Linked DNA regions of Homo sapiens: region 1 is linked to region 2. The links come from fine-mapping of genetic effects on gene expression. Tissue or cell type: lung. Region 2 holds a variant in brackets; the other region holds the start of a gene. All regions are shown on one strand. Distances are from middle to middle.

Region 1 (16,705 bases), 21 kb before region 2:
TTTATACCAAACTACTAACAGTGGTTATGCTTGGAAAGAGGAATGGGGTTAGGGGTAGGATGATGGGCTTTTAAATCTCACTTAAACTCTTCTGTCATGATCACGTTTGTATTTTATTTTACAATGAGCACTTTTGGGTTTTGAAATTTAAAAATAATGTTTTAAATTATGAGACTTTTTTCTTAAGTGTGTCAGACATCTAGCTTCCAATCCCAGCTGTGCTACTTATTTCATTTTGTGACCTGGGAAAGTTAATCTTCCTAAGCCTATGCTCCCTCAACTGTCAAGTGGGCATAATAGTTACCTAGCCCACATGGTTATTAAGTGACAAAGCCCAGCATGAAGTAGGAACTCAGAATACATAACTTCAATGGAAAGTAGATGTTGTCTATTTTTCACAATCATCAAAGACATCCAAAATAGAACTTAATTAAAACATAATATGGCTGAGCGCAGTGGCTCACACCTGTAATCCCAGCACTTTCGGAGGCCAAGGCAGGTAGATCACTTGAAGTCAGGAGTTCAAGACCAGCCTGGCCAACATGGTGAAACCCTGTCTCTATAAAAATACAAAAATTAGCTGGGCATGGTGGCGTGAGCCTGTAATCCCAGCTACTCGGGAGGCTGAGGCAGGAGGATTGCTTTAACCTGGAAGGCAGAGGTTGCAGTGACCTAAGATCACACCACTGCACTACTGGGCGACAGAGCAAGACTCTATCTCAAAACAAAACAAAACAAAACGAACAAACAAAAAAGCATAGTTCATTCTTGTCTCAATGCTGTTAGCATTCATATACGCAATCAAGTCTGATGTAACATAGCTGGTTTAGAAGGTGGCTATTTGCCCTTACTGCTAGCTAATTAAGTAATCTCACAATTTGTTTATTTGATGGTTATCAAACCAAGAATGGTTATAAAATTCTACAAAGAAATTTATAATACTTCTGCTTCAATAATGATCACTGGTTTAAGCTAAGTTCTCAGTTTGCCTGTGTTCTTATTAGAAAACAGTTCTTTGCAATTTTCACTCACCTCGTGCCCTGTCTCCACTGGGAGACATCACAGCATGTTTTTTGAAGTCTTCTTCTTGTTTTCTCTAGAAGTTCTGTAAAAAAAAAAAAAAAAAACGCCATTGATAATGATAGCTACCTTGCATTTTATACCATCATTTTTTCCTATAATTTTGTAATTAAAAGTTCTTATTATATATGCAATTCACTGTTGTTAAAGATTTCTAATAGGTAAAAAACATATAAAGTAAAAAAGTAAAAGTCTTTGTTTCTTTTAGTCTTTTAATTTTTAAGTCACTTGGTATTGAGCAAGTACAATCACCTCAGTATTCATATGTTTGGGGGACTAATAAAAATAAATTTCTATGTATTTAAAAACATAGCTCGAGAACTCCAACATGGCTTAGGGGGCTTTGCTGAATCAGAAGAGTTCAAAGCAGTTGATATGACCGTAAAATATTGAAAGCCACAAATCTAGAGTCTTTTCTAATATTCCACATTAAATCACCTACTTCAAGTGACAAGTGAAATGTGTTTGTAATAGGTTTTTCTTTAAGCGCCAATTGAAGTGATCTATACTCAAAATTAAGAACAAATCTATTTAGAAAACATTCTGTGATTTATATAATTTTTGCTGCAGTACGGGCAGTTTGGCCAATTCACTGAATCTTCCTGGACTTCGGTTTCCTGACCTGTATGATTGGCTTAGTAATAGTAATACTTGCCTCACAGTGTGGATGTGAAGATTCAGGGACACGAAGCCTGGAGGGAGGGAGACTGGGACATAGAGTTTAGGGAGGGGCAAAGCCTTACTTGGTCACCTTTTGTCACTTTATCAAGAGGCCTTTATTCTGGGTGAATCTGTTTATTCCCAGCTTGGCTTCCTCTTTTTTTCCTTTAATTTTACTGATTTTTTTTTTCTTAAAAGATTACTTTTGTACATAATGCTGTACTTTGTCTAAAGGAATATAAGAGGCCATGTAAGGCCTGATACTGGCTCTGACAGACACTGCTAGTTGCCACCCAGTATTCATTCTCCTCTTTTTTTGGAAACCCAGTTAAAAGACTGTATTCCCCTCTTCCTCACAGCTAAGTGTAACCATGAGACTAGATTTCTACCCATGCAATACAAGTAGAAACACTGAGTGACCACTGGGAAGTCTCCTAAAAGAGAGAACACACCTTTTTTCCCCATTCCTCGTTCCTGCTGGCTGAACATCAGTGAGATAGGTGGAGACCTAGCAACTGTCTTGGACCAAGAGGTGATATACTAAGGATGGCAGAAGAGCAAGATGACAGGAACCTGGGGGCCTCTCACTAAGGAACTCATCTAACAGCACTAGACTGCCTACCTTTGTGGGCTTGTTTGTTTGTTTGTTTGTTTTTAATGTAAGAGAGAAATACACTTCTAGCTTGTTTAAGCCTCTATTATTATTCTTTTTTTTTTTCCCCCAGCATATACAGATTAACTCAATCTTTACTGATATGCTGGCGTTCTAGGAAGCTATCCAGAGCCCAAAAGCAACATTTTTTTTTTTTAAAGGCAGGTTTTCTCTCTGAAGCCCAGGCTGGAGTGCAGTGGTGTGATTGTGGCTCTCTGCAGCCTCGACCTCCCGGGCTCTAGCAATCCTCCTGCCTCAGCCTCTGAGTAGCTGGAACTACAGGTGCATGCCACCATGCCTGGCTAATTTTTTTGTTTTTTGTTTTTTGTTTTTGGTAGAGATGGGGTTTTGCCACGTTGCCCAAGCTGGTCTCGAATTCCTGGGCTGAAATGATCCCAGTGTCTCGGCCTCCTAAAGTGTTGGGATCAAAAGAGTGAGCCAGCCTGGCAAGAACGATTTTTAATTCTGGAAAGTTTTCTTATATTTCCTTGGAGCCTATGTGTGCTTTCTGCTTATTAACAACAGTCTTCAGTCTTCAGTCTTCAGACTTTAGAAGTCTTCACTCCAGCCCTTGTTTGTGCCCTATCTCCCTTGAATTGCCTACATTTTAGATACTACTCACTCATTTGAGCTCTTCAGATAGAAACCTGGAAAATGAGGTAACTCACTTGGGAAAAAAAGAAAGAAAGTTTGGCTAAAATTAAGTTTTTAGGGGTTTAAACAGAGTTCACGTGCATTCAACAAGTATTTAATAAGCATATACCACATAAAAGGCATTGTACCAGGTGCTAGGAGAAATGAAAGGATGCCATTGTTTCTGCTTCCAGTCTAGAAGGGAAGATGAGACACATAAATAACTGTAACATATAATGGATTGTGACAAATGAAAAAGAAAAGTGTAAAGTGCCTAAAATTTTCAGAGAAAAGATGAATTCCCTTGTGGGGATTAGAGAAAGCTTCATTAAGAAGATAGGATTTGAGCCAGGCTTTGCATGATATGTAGAAACGGTCAAAAGGGGATCACCAGAGGGGCCAGGCACAGTGGTTCACACCTGTAATTCCAGCATTTTGGGAGGCTGAGGCAGGTAAATCGCTTGAGCTCAGGAGTTCGAGATCAGCCTGGCCAACATAGTGAAACTCTGTCTCTACTAAAAGTACAAAAATTAGCCCATGGTGGCGGGTGCCTGTAATCCCAGCTACTCAGGAGGCTGAGGCAGGAGAATTGCTTGAACCCAGGAGGCAGAGGTTGCAGTGAGCCAAGACTGTGCCACTGCACTCCACCCTGGCAACAGGGTGAGACCTTGTCTCAAAAAAAGAAAAAAAAAAAAAAAAGGATTACCAGAGGAACAAAGCACAAGGCCTAGGTGGATTTAGGAACCCTAGGGAGCAAAGAAGGTAGAGTAGAAGGTGAGGCTAGACAGGTAGATTGGGGGCAGATAGAGAGCCTTGAATCTCTTCTTTGGAGCTTGCTCTGCAGTGGAGAGAATGAGTCATTGAAAATGTTTAAGCAGAGGTATAACAAGATCACATATCTCTGGTAAGAAGATGACTTAGTGGCACTGTAGAGGAAAGAGCAGCTGCAAAGAGGCCAGTGAGCAGGCACCTTTAATAACTCAAGTAAAAGATAATGATGACCTGAATTAGGGAAGTGACTCTTAGAAAGGAAAGGAGGGCACAGATAGAAGCGACATTTCAAAGGTTGCTCCATGAGCCAAATGTATGCTTCACCCAAGAAAAAGAGTTGGATAGTCACTCTCAGATTCAGAAGGAGGAAATATGTCATAAGATAATTTTTAAAATTACTCTAACTTATTTGAACCAGGAGACTAAAAGGAGGCTGAATATGCTATAATAATGAACTTGGTTCTACAATTTTAGCAGAGCCTTAACTTTTGTTTTTGTCAATTGGGGGTGCACTGACTAACTCTGCTAGGAGATGGGGAAAGCACATTTTAAAATGTCTCAAAAAAGAAATACAACCATCCTTTCTTTCCCATTGTTCATCCTTTGCCCGGGTGTTATGGTACTTAGCAGATGTCAGTTAGGTTTTTCTACTTTTCCCCAGTTATCTGTTTACCCACCTTTAGGCATCATCTCTACCCACCCCACCTACTCACACACTCCATAAAAAACCCAGTGAAAATTACGAGGAGGAGATTTTTTTAGAGAGCATAAGAATTTTCCAGTATTTGCTTCTTCATTGCTTGCTAAAACCATGCCAGCATAGCCTGGGGAAAGGTGGAAAGGGCTGGCATTGCCCCATATAAGGGAATTATATCCTCAAATCATTTGAGATAAGTAGGCCCCAAAGACAAATCCAAAACAGCTACTCCCTCATTCTCAGGAAATAAATTCTAGAGATTTCCTCAAATGGATAAATTTGAGAATCCGATTAGCTGCCACTTTTTCTTTATTTTTCTGATTATTTTAGGAAGACTCAAACAGATGTTAATACTTACTACCCTGTCTTTTTGTCAGTAAAGGCATGAACAGACAACAAAATAATCATGAACATACCAATCAGAAGAGTGCTCTCTGTAATATTAGCATTTATGATTTGTTTCGTTCATCTTATTTGGGGCATTCAAAGTGCTTTACAAATAACATAATGAGGGTTTTTTTTCCTTCCATGACTCCCAAGGTGATTCCTGGCACTCTCAAAAGGCACAAGTGATTAGTCAAGTCCTTGGGGCCCAGCAGCAGTAATGTGATGCATGTTGGTTAAACTGTGTTTCACACTCATGTAAATTGTGTGGGGGGCGGGTGGGGAATCTTCCACACTGTCCTTGAGAAGATTAGCAAGAATTATGAATTTAAAGATTCTTACATTTATAAAAATCCAAACAAAGAGAAATATTGAACAAATCATACTCCAGTCCTAAAATCAAAGTCTAAGGGTCTTAACCTGTGGTCCCAGGAATAGGGTTTCAGGTCACCTGTAAATCTTCTGAAATTGTATGCAAAATTTTGTGTGATTTTACTTTTTTTTTTGCAGAAATGGTGGACTGGTTTCTGAAGATTCTAAAAGCAATTCTTGACACCGAAAAGGTTAAGAACTGCTGTCATTAAAGAAAAAGAAAGGAAGGAAGAGGGAGAGAGGAAGGGAGGAAAGGAGAGAGGAAGGGAAGGAGGAAGATCAGTTGATCTTTGTATCTACATTACTTAGTTTATTACTGGCCTGCTATGTTGAAGTACACCCTTATACACAGAGAAAAGGGAAGGTAAATAAAGGGAATTAAGAAAAAGTTAACAATAAGGCCGAGCATGGTGGCTCACACCTGTAATCCCAGCACTTTGGGAGGCTGAAGTGGGAGGACTGCTTGAGATCAGGAGTTCAAGACCAACCTGAGCAACATGACGAAACCCCATCTCTACAAAAAATACAAAAATTAGCCGGGTGTGGTGGTGTGCACCTGTGGTCTCAGTTACCTGTGGGGGCTGAGGTGGGAGGATTGCTTGAGCCCAGGTGACAAAGTGAGACCTTGTCTAAAAAAAGAAAAGAAAAAAGAAAAAAAAAAAAACCAATAGTATGGTCATCTTGTTTCAAAAGCCTCTGAGTTTTCAAATGAGTTTAGATTGCATTTCCAGAGCCCATGGTTATGAAAAATGTAGACATTAATTAATTCAGTTTGTGAAAAATGTTTAGAATAAATGTGCATCAAAAACTTTTTTCTCTAGGATACATTTCTGATCATTATGTTGAATCCTTCAGAAGTAGCCTTCAATGAAATAGCTATTCCATTTACAGCAATATGATTTTGTATTAAAAGGGGCTATTAAAAATATAAAAGGGTGATATAGAGATTTCTACATATTCAGAATACTATTTCAGCATATAAAAACTCACATAATTCCAATACTAATTATAATAGAACGCTATTCTCACTTAAGACAATGTTTAAGTGAAACTCAGTTCTTCTCATTACACACCAAAGCCCCATGAAGTGTTTAGAATTAGGTTTCACCAATAAAGCCCCCATGTAATTAATCAGTACACATTTTCAATCAGGATATGTTTTTTGTTCTGTACATAGGGGAGTGAATGCTGAAGATTCCCCTATTCTTTTTCTGTGTTAGAAAGGAATAAACCAATCTCCCTCCATCCCTAATCTTTTTCATTCTTTAATTATTCTTAATCCCAAAGAGGCATGTCCATGTCAGATTTACGCTGTCTAGCATCCTTTCTTTAAGACTGCTCTCAAAATTTAACTCATCTTCAACTATATTTATTAATATGCAGAACAACTTCAGTCTCCAGTTTATCGATAACCTGCAAAGCGCAGTTAAGACATAATATAAAAATTAAGCAAGGAAATAAATGTTTTACAAATTGTTATAACTCTTAAATAAAAGTTATTTCTTTGAATGCCTACCTCAAATAAATGTTAGCATATATTGGATTTAAATTAGTACACCACGTGGTAAGGATTGATGGGTTTTCATCTCTTATAAAATTGTTTCCCCTTTCAGTGCCCCTTAAAGCATATAAAAGCGCATACTTACCCCATGTTGCCTGCGGTGGTTATATCATCCTCAGATCAAGGCTTATCTGGGTTCTGAATTAACTTAAAGGTTATAAAAAGAAGCAGTAGAGAGGCTTGACTTCCCCTGAAACGAGACCGTAGTATGCTAACCAGGCTTTTAAATGAGGAAAACTAGTGTCTCTTCTAATTATATAAGCTCCAGGTCAAATTCTAGCATCAACTAATCAAATAACTGAACTGCATTTAGTTTCAATGAGTAAAAAGGAAGAAACCCATTTAGGAGGAATATCTTTGGTATACTAGAAAATTGAAAAGTTGTACTTTGAAAAGTTATTAACATAGCAATACAAGTTAAATATTTTAAGAGTAAAATATATATCTTGCTGCCTTAAATAAATTGAAAAAAATTAGGGAAAATTTATTTTGCAGCAAAGCAGATACTTTTCTATATTTTCCAGAAGTTTTTGAATTTAAATTATATGTCCTGGTCCCTGAAAACATCTTCTCACCTTATCTTAACTTGTCCAGTATTTGTCTCTTCATGAATTTCCATATAATAATAATATTTAATTCTAAAGCCATGCCAGCTAATGTTTAGCAACATATACAAAAATGTCCAATTCTTAAAATGTGTCTTTGAAAACTTACAAATAGGGTCTTTCAAAATTAGCCATAAAGCTATTATTATGAGAAACTAACAAAAATGCCATTTTTATTTTAACATTTTAGAAGACATTGTAACCCAAATTTGTGCCAGTACAGCAAAAAATAAAAATATACATCTTTTGGCAATAACATATTGAGAAATACAAATATTCACAAGATTTTGAATAGAGAAATATGACAAAGAAGTTATCTATTGTGTACACTATTTTTTGTCAGTTTTAGAATATAGAGTTTCAGCAAAAACATTCAGGTCTTTATTGTAATTTTTTAAATGTAGTTGACATATACTGCTCTGGTAATTTTTAAATTATCTTATGTAAAAAGTAAAGAAGTTTTCTGGACATAGAATATATGACAACACACAGATCTACTTTTTAAGAAATTGAGACATAATTTACACATCATACATAAAATTTGTCCCTGTTAAATGAACAATTCAGTGGTTTTTAGTACATTTTCAAGACTGTGCAACCATCACCACTGTCTAATTCTAGAAACCTCATGCCTCCCAATTTCTTCCTCCCCTGGCAACCACTAATCTATTTTCTGTCCCTAAGGATTTGCCTATTCAGAGCATTTCACATAAATGGAATCATATAATATGTGGCCGTTTGTGACTGGTTCCTTTCACTTAGTACAATGTTTGTTTGTTTGTTGTTTTTGAGATGAAGTTTTGCTCTGTCACCCATCCTGGAGTGCAGTGGCATGATCTTGGTTCACTGCAACCTCTGCCTCCTGGGCTCAAGCAGTCCTCCCAAGTAGCTGGGACTATAGGCATGTGCCACCACACCTGGCTAATTTTTGTATTTTTTGTAGAGATGGGATTTTGCCATGCTGCCCAGCCTGGTCTCAAACTCCTGGCAAGCGATCCACACACCTTGGCATCCCAAAGTGCTGGGATTACAGGATGAGCCACCTGCCTGGCCAGTACAATGTTTCTGAAGTTCATCCATGTTGTAGTATCAGTACTTCATTTTTTATGGCTGAATAATATTCCATTATGTGGACATTTTGTTTACACATTCATTAGTTGATGGACATTTGGATTGTTTCCAGTTGGGGCTATTATACATGTCTTAGTCCATTTGAACTGCTATAAGAAAATACCTTAGACAGGGTAATTTTAAACAACAGAAATGTATTGCTCACAGTTCTGGAGGCTGTTAAGTCCAAGATCAAGGCACTAGCAGATTTAGTGTCTGGTAAGGACTTGCTCTCTTCTTCAAAGATGGCACCTTCTTGCATCATTCTCTTGTGACAGAAGAAGCAAGCAATCTCCTTCACATCTCTTTTATAAGGGCACTAATCCCATCCATGAGGGCTCTGTCCTTATAACCTAATCACCTCCTAAAGGCCTCAACTCTTAATACTACCACAGTAGAGATTAGGTTTTTGTTGTTGTTGTTGTTGTTTTTAGACAGAGTCTCACTCTGTTGCCCCTGCTGGAGTGCAGTGGCGCCATCTTGGCTCACTGCAGACTCCACCTCCCAGTTTCAAGCAATTCTTGTGCCTCAGCCTCCCGAGTAGCTGGGATTACAGGCACACACCACCACGCCTGGCTAATTTTTGTATTTTTAGTGGAGAGGAGGTTTCACCATGTTGGCCAGGCTGGTCTCAAACTCCTGACCTTAAATGATGCACCCACCTTGGCCTCCCAAAGTATTGGGATTACAGTCGTGAGGAAATTAGGTTTAAACATGAATTTTGGAAGGACACATTCAGACTATAGCAATGAATAATGTTGCTATGAACATTCGTGTGCAAGTCAATTCCCTTGCGTACATACCTAGGAACTGCTGAGTCACGTAGTAACTCTATGTCTAATATTTTGAGGAAATGTATTCCACAGCAGCTGCACCATTTTATATTCCCACCAGAAATGTGTGAGGCCTCCAATTTCCCCACATCATTGCCAATCTTTGTATTGTCTGTTTTTTTTTTTTGATATAGCCATCCCACCAAACAATGCATGTTCTCACTTATAAGTGGGAGCTGAACAATGAGAACACATGGACACAGGAGGAGAACAACACACATGTTGTGGAAGTGGGGGAAGAGAGAGCATCAGGAAAAATAGCTAATGCTTGCTGGGCTTAATACCTAGGTTATGGGTTAATAAGTGCAGCAAACCACCATGGCACACATTTACCTATGTAATAAACCTACACATCCTGCACATGTACCCCAGAACTTAAAATAAAATAATAATAATAATAATAGCTATCCCAGTTGGTGTGAAGTGGTATCTCACGGTGGGTTTGTAGGTTTAAGGTTCATTTCCCTGAAGAGTAAGGATGTTAAGCATCTTTTTGTTTACTTATTGGCTACTTGTATATCTCCTTCAGAGAAACATCTGTTCAAATTCTTTGACCTTTTTTTTTTTTTTGAGATGGGAGTCTCGCTCTGTTGCCCAGGCTGGAGTGCAATGGCGCGATCTCGGCTCACTGCAACCTCCGCCTACCATGTTTAAGCGATTCTCCTGCCTCAGCCTCCTGAGCAGGTGGGATTACAGGTGCCCGCCATCATGCCCAGCTATTTTTTGTATTTTTAGTAGAGATGGGGTTTCACCATGTTGGCCAGGCTGCTCTTGAATTCCTGATCTCAGGTGATCTGCCTGCCTCGGCCTCCCAAAGTGCTGGGATTACAGGTGTGAGCCACTGCCCCCCGCCCATTTTAAAAATTAAGGTTTTTTTAATTGTTGGGTTGTAAAAGTTCTTTATACATTTTGGAAACTAGACTTTGTATCAGTGTCATAATTTTTATTGCTATGGTTTCTGGAAATCTGGAGGTAGCAGTGAGCTCAACCAGTGGGGTGGGGGTGAGAGAGAAGACCACAGGACTACACCTTTATTAAGGTCCACGGATGTTATCCCTTAGGCTTTCCCTCTGGGGTTGTGGATTGGCTAGTTTAAAGAAAACATGTGGAAAGGGGGAACTTATTTTTGCATGACTTATTTTGACCTTTAGGTTTTATCATGGTCAGCACCTGTGGGATGTGTTGGGTTTTGGGTCAGCAGGGTAAGGAACAAGTGGGCTGTATTGCAAACAACTACAAGGGGAAGGAAAGTTTTAACTAGGCCAAGAGTAATGGGATATGACTGGATGTCAGACAACTTATGTCAGGCCTAAAAATGGATGCTGAGGCAGTGACTATATTAAGCAAATTTCTGACAATCAGATATGATTTGCAAGTATATTATCCCATTGTGAGGATGGTATTTCCATTTTCTTGATAGTCTCCTTTAATGTATACTTTTTTAAAGATAGAAGTGACAAGAGTTAGCATCCTTGCCTTGTTCCCAGTCTTAGAGTAAAAGCTTTTCAGTTTTTCACTGTTGAGTATGATGTTAGCTGTGGGCTTTTTATATATGACCTCTGTTATGTTTAGGTAATTTCTTTCTGTTCCTAATTTGTTAAGAGGTTTTTTTTTAAATAATGAACAGGTTCTCAATTTTGTTAAATGCTTTTTCTGCATCTGTTGAGCTGATTATGTGATTTTAGTCCTCTATTCTGTTAATGTAGAATATCACATTAGTTGATTTTCGTATGTTGAACTATCCTTGCATCCCAGGGATAAATCTCACTTGGTCATGGTATATGACCCTTTCCATGTGTTGTTGGAAACAGGGGAAAATCTTCATGACATTGATCTTGGCAATGAGTTCATGGATAATGACACCAAAAGCACAGGCAACAAAACAAAAAATAAACAAGTGGAACCACATCAAACCAAAATCTTCTGCACAGCAAAGGAAACAATCAACAGAGTGAAAAGGTAACAACCTACAGAATGGATGAAAATATCTGCAAATCATATATCAGATCAGGATTTAATCTGTAAAATATATGAGGAATTCTTACAACTCAATGGTAAAAAAAATTAATAACCTGATTTAAAAATGGATTAGGAACTGAACAGACGTTTTTTCAAAGAAGACATATAAATGGTCAATAGGTATTTGGAAAAATGCTCGATGTCACTAATCATCAGAGAAATAGAAATGAAAACCACAATGAGATACCACCTTATACCAGACAGGATGGCTATCATCAAAAACAAAAAACAAATGCTAAGGAGGTGGAGAAATTGAACCCTTGCTGTTTTGTCTCTCTAAACCCTCAAATCCTCGGCTGGAATCACCCCAAAAGCAGTGGCAGGGGGACTTCCCACAAGGGAGTCTCCAACTGTCCTGAGATAGGGCTGGCTGGAATACCAAAGAAAAAACTCTAAGCTCTAGGGTGATCAGTCCAAAGAATTTATTAGGGAAACTTCCTTACAGAGGGCTGCAGCAATTGCTGAGAGAGAAAAGGAATGTTCTACCCAGGTATGTCTGCAGCAAGGGGATCAGAGTCTGGAGTTTCTATGACAGTTTGAGAAATTTGGCTCAGGGCTGGGGGCCAGTTTCAGTGTTTTGAGCAACAACCGAAATACCTTTCTCAGTGCTTGGGAATGTTCAAGGCCCAGTTTGGGTTCAAGCCTGCTGAGAAAAACATATAGCCAGCTGGGTCACAGAGCAGTCAAGGTACTCTGTGATTTTCAGTAAGGGCACAGAAAGAAAGTGGGAAGAACTGGGTTACCATACACTTGCCCACTGTTGCTGGGAATGCAAAATGGTGCAGCTGCTATGGTAAATCCTATGGAAGTTCCTCAAGAGATTAAAAATATAACTACTGTACTTGCTTTGGCAGAACACACACTAAAATTGGAATGATACAGAGAAGATGAGCATGGCCCCTGTGCAAAGATGACATGCAGATTTGTGAAGTGGTCCACATTAAAATAATAATAATAATAAATAAATAAATAACAAGAACAAAAAACTACTATATGAGTCAGCAATCCTACTTCTGGGTGTTTATCCAAAAGAACTGAAGCCGGGTGCAGTGGCTCATGCCTGTAATCCCAGCATTTTGGGAGGCCAGGCAGGCCAGGAGTTCAAGACCAGCCTGGCCAATATGGTGAAACCCTGTCTCTACTGAAAATACCAAAAAATTAGCCAGGGATGGTGGACCACACCTGTAATCCTGGCTACTTGGGTAGCCAGGGCACAAGAATTGCTTGAACCCATAAAGCAGAGGTTGCAGTGAGCCGAGATCACACCACTGCACTCCAGCCCGGGCAACAGAGTGAGACTCCTCTATCTCAAAAAAAAAAAAAAAAAAAAAAAAAAAAGAATTGCTATCAAGATCTCAAATAAATATTAGTACTCCTATGCTCACTGCAGCACTATTTACAATAGTCAAGATGTGGAAACAAACTAAACGTCCACCACCCCTGGCTAATTTTTTGGTATTTTCAGTTGAGATGGGGTTTCACCATGTTGGCCAGGCTGGTCTTGAACGCCTGGCCTGCCTGGCCTCCCAAAATACTGGGATTACAGGCATGAGCCACTGCACCCGGCTTCAATTCTTTTGGATAAACACCCAGAAGTAGGATTGCTGACTCATATAGTAGCAGTCCACCACAATGAATAAAGAAAATGTGGTTTACACATATAATGGAATACTACTCAGCCTTAAAAGAGAAATCCTGTGATTTGTGACAACATGGATGAACCCTGAGGACATTATTCTAAATAAGCCAGTCACAGAAAGACCAGTACTATATGATTCCACTTTTAAGTATGAGGTATTTAAAATAGTCAAATGTGGCCGGGTGGGGTGGCTCACACCTGTAATCCCAGGACTTTGGGAGGCCGAGGGCGGGTGGATCAGAAGTTCGAGACCAGCCTGGTAAACATGGTGAAACCCCATCTCTACTAAAAATACAAAAATTAGCTGGGCATGGTGGCAAGTGCCTGTAATCCCAGCTACTCGGGAGGCTGAGGCAGGAGAATAGCTTGAACCCGGGAGGCAGAGGTTGCAGTGAGCCAAGATTGCACTGTTGCACTCCAGCCTGGGCAAAAAGAGTGAAACCCCATCTCAAAAAAATAAAAAATAAGAAAAATAAAATAGTCAAATTCATAGAATCAAAGAGTAGAATATGGTTACCAGGGGCTGGGGTGATGGGAAAATAAGAGGTAACTAATAAAAGGCCATAAAGTTTCAGTCAAGCAAGATGAATAAGCTCTAGAGATCTGCTGTACAACATTGTACCTATAGTCAACAATAATGTATTGTACACTTAAAATTGTGTTCATTATCCTTAGCAAACTAACAGAACGGGAACAGAAAACCAAATACCGAATGTTCTCACTTATAAGTGGGAGCTAAATGATGAGAACTTGTGGACACAAAGAAAGGAACAACAGACACTGGGGCTACCTGAGGATGGTGGCTGGGAGGAGGGAGAGGATCAGAAAAAATAACTATTGGTACTATGCTTAGTACCTAGGGGACAAAATAATCTGTATAACAAACACTGTGACATGAGTTTACCTGTATAACAAACCTGCACATGTACGCCTGAACCTAAAATAAAAGTTAGAAAATAATAAGAAATGAATAAAATGTATTACAGCCTAAAAAAAAAAGTTGTTTTTTTTTTAAAGAGGTCGGATGTTGACCAGGACACACAAGCACAAACTAGAAAAAAAAAAAAAAAATGACAAAACTCAAACAGAGGATTGGAAATCAACTTTGCCAAGATTTGGATGCTTCTGCCATAGTTATTATAATAAGCAGACTGAATTGAATCATGTCATTTATTTTAAACTAATTGTAAGACAATGAATATAAAGTTCAAAAAGGTGTAAGCAGGTGATGGTTTTATTGGCAAACTTATAGGGGTAGTGTATGAAGTCATTTCAAATAACAGATTAAGTTGCTTTCCTTACAACTAAAAGCTTCAATTACTACATTTCAACTTTAATTTAACATCACATCTACATGTGAAGCTTTAATTTCAGGTCTGGAGCAGCTGTAAAATGAAAGTTACCACTCCATTCTAGTCCTTGGATATCAGTATATTCCCCTTCACCTTCCACCCTGCAATAGTAGAAAATAAGTTTTCCATTAACAAAGATGAATAATTTACAGTCCAGATATAAGATTTTCTAGCATAATATATACTATGTCTGAAGATTATATCCTCTACTTTCAAGCTTTGCTTTTAAACCCAGCATCCTGCTTTCATATCCTACCAAAAAAACAAACAAACCAAAAAAAAAAAAAAAAAAACCACATACTATTCCAAACAAAAACAAACAATTATTTGGTGTCCAAGATTTTAGGATCACATAATCTAGGTTCACACAAAACCAAAACAATGAGTTAAAAAAATGAAAAGTTTATATCGGTTATCTAGCTTAATTACTTCACTTATTCAACAAATATTTTTTCACTATCAATGATGTTTGAGGTGCTGTGCCACCGCACCTGGCCTCCAACAATTTTTAGAAACTATATCATAAAAGAATATTTAGAATTAACTAAATATAGTATTTAAGCAGCTGGGCACAGTGGCTCACGCCTGTAATCTCAGCACTCTGAGAGGCCGAGGCAGGCAGATCACTTGAGGTCAGGAGTTCTAGACCAGCCTGCTCAACACGGTGAAACCCCGTCCCTACTGAAAATACAAAAAATAGCTGGGTGTGGTAGTGCACATCTGTGGACCCAGCTACTTGGGTGGCTGAGGCAAGAGAATCGCTTGAACCCGGGAGGCAGAGGTTGCAGTGAGCCGAGATCACTCCACTGCACTCCTGCCTGGATGACAGAGGGAGACTCTGTCTCAATAAATAAATAAATAAATAAGTATTTAAGCAAACATACCAGAAAATAATCTTTTAGAAATGCAGTGATTTTTTTTTATTTTAAGCTTACCTATTTTCATTGAAATTTCCAGTATACTTTGCCCCATTTGGGAATGTGTAAGTCCCCAGTCCATGAAACATATTATCCTTAAATTGTCCTTCATATACTGCTCCTGAAAAATGCTCAAGTCTTCCAAAACCATTCATCTGTTTGTAACAAAGGAAATTACCTTAGAAACTAATCTTCAGTTTCCCAAGAACCTTTAAAAAATGTACAAATATAAGTCTATCATCTGCTAATTATTACTTAACCAACTTTGTATTGTCCTTTATTTCCATAGTATAAAGACAACATTTTTATCATTTTCCTTCATCTGTATCTATCTGTGAAGCCCAGTAAATTAAATGTTCTGGATCTGGGACATTTGAACATCAGGGGGTCCATGATGAAGATAAATAGGGGTCCTCAAGATACCCTGAATGTATCAGAAATCTTAAAGGGCAACCAGTTTAGTTAGTTCAGGAAACCAGTACAAAGTAGTTGTTAAGAATTCAAATTTGGATTTGAGCAGACCAGGGTATACTTTCCTGTTTTATCATTTACTAGCTGGGCAAGAAACCTGAGCCTGATTTTCCTCATTTGTAAAATAGAGTATTAATGGTACCTATCTCATGAGGTTATTATGAGGATTAAATGAGAAAATTATGTAACGGATTCAGCTTTACTCAATGAATAGGAGATGAGAAAGAAAGTAACGATGATTAGCTTTCTACAGTGAGTTTAATATTACTCATAAGTTAATATATGTTAATATGATCATTTGTTATTTTTATTATATAGTCTACTCATTATAGGAGTTTTTGATTAATGGTGAAATGCCTGGAATCACTAAACCTACAGGGTTATTTATCCACTGCCAATATTAAAAACAACAATAATACCTTGTCATCTTTCCAGCTTCCTGTGTAGACAATCCCATTAGGAGTGGTATGAATACCTATTCCATTTCTCTCGTAGATTCCAGAAGATGTTCTTGTACAGTCACCATCTAAACAGAGGAGAAAAACTGAAGATTATAAATGAGAATAGTTATGTCTGGGCCTAATCGCAACTACACCTCATGGGTTTCTTTGGCTCCCTAGCACTGAAACCAGTGAGACCAGAGATGAGAAAATCCATGGACACAGAACATCTTGTAACAATTGAGACTCAAGGGCCAGGAAGATTGACAGATCCCATAGGTTTCCAAGGCATTGGAATTTTGATTTTAAAAGCTCTTTATCTATTAGGATTTCTGTTATTTTAGTTAATAAAGTTAATATCCTAATAGTAGTTTTATAAAATTTAACAGTCTCAGTTTTTTATTCCTAAGCTATTTAATTTTCTATACAGAAAAAGTAATTGAAGCGTATACTTACCATACTTGTCTCCATTTGGAAAGATAAAGCTGATCTTATACACTTCTGAAGCT
Region 2 (8,000 bases):
TACATATTATTTTATATAACTGCTTTTTAAATCATTTCAGAGAAAAGAAGAGACAATACTTTTGTACTGGTTTTCAAATAAATAAATGTCCAATATAAATGTGGATTTTTAAAAATAATTACTCAATTACCTTTACTAGTACTCTTTGTTTTTTCATGTAGATTTAAATTACCATCCAGGGATACTTGCCTCAACTTGAAGAACTGTTAGTATTTCTTGTGAGGCGGGTCTATTGACAACAAATTCTCTCAGTTTTGTTTGTCTGAGAAAGTTTTCATTTTACCTTCATTTTTGAAAGATAGCTTTTCTGGATTTTTGGTTAACTATTTTTTGTTGTTTTTTTTTTGTTTTTTGTTTTTTGTTTTTTTGAGATGGAGTCTCACTCTGTCACCCAGGCTGGAGTGCAGTGGCGCAATCTCGGCTCACTGCATCTTCTGTCTCCCATGTTCAAGTGATTCTCCTGCCTCAGCCTCCGAAGCAGCTGGGACTACAGGTGTGTGCCACCACACCCAGCTAATTTTTTGTATTTTTAGTAGAGACAGGGTTTCACTGTGTTAGCCAAGATGGTCTCGATCTCCTGACCTCGTGATCTGCCCGCCTTGGCCTCCCATAGTGCTGGAATTACAGGCATGAGCCACCACGCCCAGCCCTATTTTTTTCTTTGAGTATTTTAAATATATATGTCATTACCTTCTGCCCTCCATTGTTTCTGTGAAGAAATCAGTCATTAATTTTATTGGGGTTCCCCCCTGTAAGTGATAAGTTGTTTTTCTCTTACTCCTTTCATGATTTTCTCTTTGTCTTTTGACCTTCAACATTTTTATTGCAACATGTCTATTTTGTGCATCTCTGTGTTTATTTTCTAATAGTTGGAGGCCATTGAGCTTCCTGCATGTAGAGGTTATTGATTTTTAATGAATCAGAGAAGTTTTCTACCATTATTTCTTTGAATATTTTTTCTGCTCTTTTCTTTCTTTCCTTTCCTTCTGGTATTCTCATTATATGTATATGGTACCCTTGATGGTGTCCCACATTTTTCCAAGGCTCTGTTCACTTTTCTTCATTTATCGTTCTCTCTGTTTTCAGCTTGCATAATCAATGTCAGTCTGTCTTCAAGTTCATCAGTTCTTTCTCTTGCTAGTTCATGTTTATGGTTGAGCTTCTCTAGTGAATTTTTAATTTCAATTAGTATACTTTTCAACTCCAGAATTCCCATTTGGTTCTTTTTATATATATAATTTTTTATCTCTTTATTGATGTTCTCAATTTGATATGACATTGTCATCATACCTTCCTTTACTGCTTTAATTGTGCATTCCTTTATTTCTGTGAACATACTTATAATGACTATTTTGAACTCCTTTTCTGTTAAATCTGACATCTGTTCTCACTCATAGGCAGTTTGTGCTTTTTCTCTCCAGTGTATGGGTTATACTTAAGTGTTTCTTTGCATGCCTTGTGACTTTTTTGTTGTTAACTGAACATTTTGGATAACATACTGTAACAACTCTGGGTACTGATTCTCCCCTTTCAGGGGCTTCTTATTGTTATTTGCTGGTTTAATTTTTAGTGACTGGCTAGAATATTTTAGTGAAGTCTATTTCCCTCCTACGATTTTAAGCCTCTGTTGTTGCTCCTCTGGGAGGTACAGCTTTAGGTATGCCCATGGTTGATTGCTGAATTGTTTTCAACAATGCTCTGGAGAGTAAATTCCTTTACAAACTAATCCAACCAAAGTATGGCTTCTTTGAAGCAATAGTTTCTGAGATCCCAGTTTAATACTCATTCTAATCCCAAAAAGGAACTTCCTAGTGATCTTATTCCTTGGTTTGCTTCCTGCAAACTAGTTGGCCAACAGTCTAAACTACATCTTCATTTAATCCTGTAATCTCCCTTTCCCCACAACCTCACTATTCTTGAAAGCACCTTTAGGTTTGAACTTCTCCACACTCCATTGTAAATGGAGTCAGTCCTTTGGAAAAAGATTAGGAGCTATCTGTCTTACGGCCTACTTCCCTTTTGCCCTTGGCAGAATCTCTGAGCCCAAGCTGTGTTCCTGATAGAGCATATATAAATTTAAATTTTGTCAAAACATATATTAAATACATGAAAACTTCTCAACTGGATTTTTAAAATCCTATGCTAGGCTGGGTGCAGTGGCTCACACCTGTAATCCAAGCACTTTGGGATGCTGAGGTGCGCAGATCACTTGAGGTCATGAGTTCGAGACCAGCCTGGCCAACATGGTGAAATCCCATCTCTACTAAAAATACAAATATTAGCTGGGCGTGGTGGCAGGCGCCTGTAGTCCCAGCTACTCCAGAGGCTGAGGTAGGAGAATTGCTTGAACCCAGGAGGCAGAGGTTGCAGTGAGCTGAGATCATCCGGCCTGGGCGACAGAGCAAGACTCCATCTCTAAATAAATAAATAAATAAATAAATAAAACTCTAAATTAGACCTAACCAAATGAGAATCTAGGATTAAAGCCTAGACATGTGTATTTTGACACTTCTCCATGTGTTTATGATGTACATCTTTAGTTTAGAAATCTGTATCAGAGACATTCACTAAATATTAGTCCTGAGGTAGAAGTGCTTATAAATCTTTTGTGAAGATTTATCCATACTATCCCTAAACTGGCTGGCTCTTTTTATTTTGTAGTTTTAAAATTTTTTCACTGGAACAGATTCAGAATCCTGCCCCAAGACCAGCTCTTTTTACATATGCATTTTCCTTTGTTTCTTTAAAGTAGCCTATATTCATAAGTTTGGCAAACAAAGGATTATCATACATGTCTGGTTTTATGATGTCTACATTAATTTTTTTCTCTTGCAGGTGAAAATGAGTTCTTCAGTAAGAAGAAAAGGCAAGCCAGGCAAAGGAGGTGGAAAAGGGTCTTCTAGAGGAGGAAGAGGAGGCAGGAGTCACGCCAGTAAATCTCATGGGAGTGGTGGCGGTGGCGGTGGTGGTGGTGGTGGAGGTGGCGGCAACAGAAAGGCCTCCAGTAGAATATGGGATGATGGAGATGACTTTTGTATCTTCAGTGAATCAAGGCGCCCTTCCAGGTCATTATAACTCTTTGAATGTTTAAATATGGAAATGGTATCAACCCCTAATGTATGGGACAACAGATGGCTGAGAATGGAAAAAAAGTCGAGTAATTCTGGTCAAATTGTCTTCCTCTTTGTAACCCTTTTCTGAAGACATGATGGGAAATAACAGCTTTTGTGTGTATGTAGGTTGCATGACACTGTGAATTGAGTGTAATACTGCTATTATACCCAGTGTTACTAGGAAAGTAAATACAGAAATAGTGTGATGAAAATTATTTTAAGTATTCCTTATGCATCATAGACTGATGTTAAAATGATGATGTTAACATTGAACATGGACAGGTACGGTGGCTCACACCTGTAATCCCATCACTTTGGGAGGCCCAGGTGTGTGGATCGCTTGAGGTCAGGAGTTCGAGACCAGCCTGGCCAATAGGGTGAAATCCTGTCTCTACTAAAATACAAAAATTAGCCAGGCATGGTGGCAGTCACCTGTAATCCCA[G/C]GTACTAGGGAGGCTGAGGCAGGAGAATTGCTTGAACCCAGGAGGCAGAAGTTGCAGTGAGCTGAGATCACACCACTGCACTCCAGCCTGGGTGACAGAGTGAGACTCCATCTCAAAAAACAAACATTGAACAGCCTAAAGTGCAACATGACTGTACTGTGTCTTTCTAGTTGATGAGCTGTGTATTTTCCAGCCAAATCAGCCATCATCTGATGGTGTTACATGTGGTGACCAGTAACAGATGCCTTATCTAGGTTTCTCTCCTGTTCAACTTTTAACTAATGAATAAATTATGGGAATTCTAGTAATTCTAATGAGTATTTAATAAAAGTAAATGTTTTGCTATTGCATGTTATACAGTATAACTACAATTAGGCATCACTTAGTGACAGAGATGTGTTCTGAAAAATGCATTGTTAGGCAATTTCATTGTTGTGCAAACATCATAGAATGTACTTACACAACCCCAGATGGTACAACCTACAACACACCTAGGCTGTATGATGTAGCCAATTGCTCCTAGACTACAAATCTATACAGCATGTTGCTGTACTGAATACTCTAAGCAATTATAACACAATGGTAAGTATTTGTGTATCTAAACATGTCTAGTTGTAGAAAAGGTATAGTAAAAATAGAGTATAAGAGATTAAAAATGATACCTATGTAGGGCACTTACCGTGAATGGAAGTTGCAGGACTGGATTTTGCTCTGGGTGAGTCAGTGAGGAAGTGGTGAGTGAATGTGAAGGCCTAGGGATATTACTGTACACTACTATAGACTTTATAAATAGCAAGCAGCATAGTCTCTCTATGTTGCCCAGGCTGGTCTTGAACTCCTGGGCTCAAGCGATTCTCCTGCCTTGGCCTCCCATAGTGTTGGAATTACAGGCGTGAGCCACTGTGCCTAGCCAAGAACCTAACTTCTGAGTTAGCTGCAGCTCCATAGTTTTTCAAAACATGGACATTATAGGTTCTTGGAGTCCGTAGATGTTCATTCATTTGGTAAGTATTTACTGAATGCCTACCATGCACCAGGCACTGTTTTAGGGACTTGGAATTGCAGCAGGGAGTAAAATATTGTCCTTATCTAGATAGAATGGGATTTGAGATAGAAAAACCATAAACAAATGTATAACATTACCAGGTGCCGCATGCTATGGAGAGAAATAAAGGAGTGTAACAGGGATATAAAATACCAAAATAGAATTGTTAATTTATGTAGAAAGCCCCCCTAATAAGGTATCACGTGAAGAGAGGCAAGAAGTAAGTAAAGGAATAAGCTGTGAAGTTCTGAGTACAGCATTCAAGGCAGAGGGAAGAGCAATTTCTTAAGGCAAGAATGTGCTTGGAAGGTTTAGGAAATAGCAAAGAACCATGTGGCTAGAATGAGTGGGCAAGAAGGCAAGTGGTAGGCAATTAGATCAGAAAGACCAGACTGTATAGGACTTCATGGGCCATTATTAGGACTTTGGCTTTTACATGAAGTAAGACAGAAGGCCTTTGGAGGGTTTGAGGCAAGGGTGTGTGATATTATCAGTCAGTCTGGCCAGAGTTGTTTCTATTCAGTGTATGCCTTTATGTGAATTAGAAAATGGTGCTCCTTCCTTTGGACAGTTATAGCCCCACACCAGGATCATGGCTTAGCCAGCAGAACATGGACCGGATTTTGCTGTCCCTTCCTCCCTCTTCTTCCCTCCCAGCCAGGAACCTTTGTGCAGTGTACAGTCTATGAATCTATACTCAATAGCATTGACTGGGTGTGCTTTGTAGAGAATAAACTATAAAGGGGCATGAGTTGAAAGCAAGGAGACCAGTTAGGAGATGTTCTCCAAGTGTAGATATAAAATAGATAATTTAATATATAAATCTGAGGTTCAAGAAAAAGATCTAGGCTGGAGATGTAAATGTGTGAGTCTTCTATAGATAAATGCTAAAGTTCTGAGTCTGGATAAAATCGAATAGAGAAGGTATCTGATGTTTGAGCCCTGGGACACTCTAGGTTTTAAAGCTAAGAGAATTTGGAATGTTCCCAACACAAAGAAATGATAAATGTGTGAGGTGTTAGATATCCTAATTACCCTGATTTGATCACTACACATTGTATGCATGTATCAAAATAGCACATGTACCCCTGTATTAGTCCATTCTCACGCTGCTATAAGGACATACCCAAGACTGAGTAATTTATAAAGGAAAGAGGTTTAATTGACTCACAGTACCACAGGGCTGGGGTGGCCTCAGGAAACTTACAATCATGCTGAAAGGGGAAGCAAAAGCATCCTTCTTCACAAGGTGGCAGGAGAAAGAAGAATGAGAGCCAAGTAAAGGGGGACACCCCTTATAAAACCATCAGATCTCGTGAGAAGTTACTCACTATCACGAGAATAGCATGGGGGAGACTGCCCCCATGATTCAACTACCTCCAACCGGTTCCCTCCCATAACATGTGGGGATTATGGGAACTTCAATTGAAGATGAGATTTGACTTGCAGCCAAACCATTATCAACCGTATAAAGAATGTACAATTATTATGTGTCAATAAAAATTTTTAGTTAAAAAATAAATAAAGCTAAGAGAAAGTATGAAAAACAAAGGGGATTGAGAAGGAGCTGCCAATGAAGTAGGAAACTAAGAGAGTGGTTTTTGGAAGCCAAGGGACAAAGGTGTTTTAAAGGAGAGTAGCCAATAAGATCGAATTGTATGCTTAAAGAGGGTACACATTTGTGGAAAAATGCTTCTGGTAGGTCAAGGAAAATGTGCACTAAGAATTGTCCACTGCATTTGACAATGTGGGTATCATGGTTAACCTTGACAAGAGCTGTAGTAGCATAGGAAATACTGATTGGGTTGTGTTTCAGAGAGAAGAGGAAAGAAAATGGAGACAGAGACAATGATTTTGATAACCTAAATGAGAAGTTTTACTATAAGGGAGCTAGAGGGAGGAGAGATGGGTCAGTAGCTACAGGGAGATGTGCACTCAAGGGAGGATTTGGCTTGGTTTCATTTTTTTAAGAGGGTAGACCTTATAGTATGTCTGTATGCTGATGGGAATGATCCAAAGAAGAATGAAAAACCAGTGATTTAGAAAGGGGGATAAGTGCTGGAATGATTTCCTTGAGGAGATTAAAGAGATTGGCATATAGTTTACAAATAGAAAGGCTGACTTTAAGATAAAGGATGACTTTAAGATAGGAGCATGTGAAACTCCCAACTCCCCCTCATGTTTAACTGATCATTTCCTAATGATCAGACAAATCATAAGAGATTATATATGCTGTGTAATTTTTTTATTTCTTTTTTTTTAAATAGAGACAGGATCTTGCTATATTGCCCAGGCTGGTCTCGAACTCCTGGGGCTTAAGCAATCCTACCACTTCAGCCTCTTAAAGTGCTGGAATTACAGGTGTGAGCCAATGCCCCTGGCCTTTTTTTTTTTTTTTTTAATAATCAGAAATAAAGATAATTGGGTATTTTAGAAATGGGGCCTTAATATTCACAAGGAAGAATGAAACTCAGTGGTTTTCAGATTTTAATGCAGAATGAAATGAAATGCTCTTCATGTCCTATAGTGCAGAGGAAACCATCATTAGCATTGCTTTTTCCTAAGGATTCTTGAGTTAGTGAAGCCAGAATTAATGATTAAGAATCTGTTAAGTTTTGTTGTTTTTTTTTTTTTTAAACGGAATCTCGCTCTGTTGCCCAGGCTGTAGTGCAGTGGCACAATCTTGGCTTACTGCAACCTCTACCTCCAAGTTCAAGTGATTCTCCTGCCTCAGCCTCCTGAGTAGCTAGGATTACAGGAGCGCACTGCCACGCCCAGATAATTTTTGTATTTTTAGTAGAGACAGCATTTCACCATGTTGGCCAGGCTGGTCTGAAACTCCTGACCTCAGGTGATCCGCCAGCCTCGGCCTCCCAAAGTGCCAGGATTACAGGCGTGAGCCACTGCGCCTGGCCAAGAATCTGATAAGGTTTTTTTCCAGCAGGTCTGATATAATGAAGTCTGGTAAATACTATAGAAAATGGAGAATCTCCTCACATTCATTGTCATCTTTTGTAAGATACTTGACAATCCAGTTTGTATTGTGTATATCTGGGGACCCCTGAGGAGAGTGTAAAAGTTCTGATTGAAGATATGTGTGTAATTTTGCTCTTTTGTTCTCTATAGACCTAGCAACAGTAACATAAGCAAAGGAGAGTCACGCCCAAAATGGAAACCCAAAGCCAAAGTACCCCTTCAGACTCTACATATGACTTCTGAGAATCAAGAGAAAGTGAAAGCTCTTCTCCGAGACCTGCAAGAACAAGATGCTGATGCTGGATCTGAGTAAATTGTTTTATTTGAGTCAATTATTATATTAAGGAAAACATACTGGCAGTGTGAAGGTCCTGTGCATCTTTGGAATGCTGTGTCAGTACTGATTCTATTGTGGCCATTTAA

Direction of the effects. Alleles are on the strand shown, and positions count from the first base shown. SD is a standard deviation of normalised expression in the study named.
As copies of C replace G in region 2, the expression in lung of the gene that starts at base 7,007 in region 1 goes down (small effect, 0.33 SD a copy in GTEx).

Evidence for each region. PIP is the estimated chance that this variant, and not a neighbour inherited with it, causes the effect.
Region 1: it holds the start of ARHGEF33, and the variant in region 2 is the best candidate, but not a certain one, in a credible set for the expression of ARHGEF33 in lung (GTEx, PIP 0.85).

Annotation. Positions count from the first base shown.
Region 1 is chr2:38,880,177-38,896,881 of GRCh38, reverse strand. It overlaps ARHGEF33 (Rho guanine nucleotide exchange factor 33), which reads right to left and starts at 7,007. Exons shown (of 18, transcript NM_001145451.5): 1 at 6,896-7,007; 2 at 1,033-1,105. It overlaps MORN2 (MORN repeat containing 2), which reads right to left. Exons shown (of 5, transcript NM_001145450.3): 2 at 16,653-16,703; 3 at 16,176-16,282; 4 at 15,304-15,440; 5 at 14,173-14,469. The coding sequence ends at 14,367. It also overlaps the pseudogene RNU6-851P.
Region 2 is chr2:38,863,247-38,871,246 of GRCh38, reverse strand. It overlaps DHX57 (DExH-box helicase 57), which reads left to right. Exons shown (of 24, transcript NM_198963.3): 2 at 2,836-3,065; 3 at 7,728-7,886. The coding sequence starts at 2,842. Among named protein-coding and RNA genes, the nearest start is that of DHX57, 8.7 kb to the left of the region's middle. The variant G/C (reference allele first, on the strand shown) is at 3,557.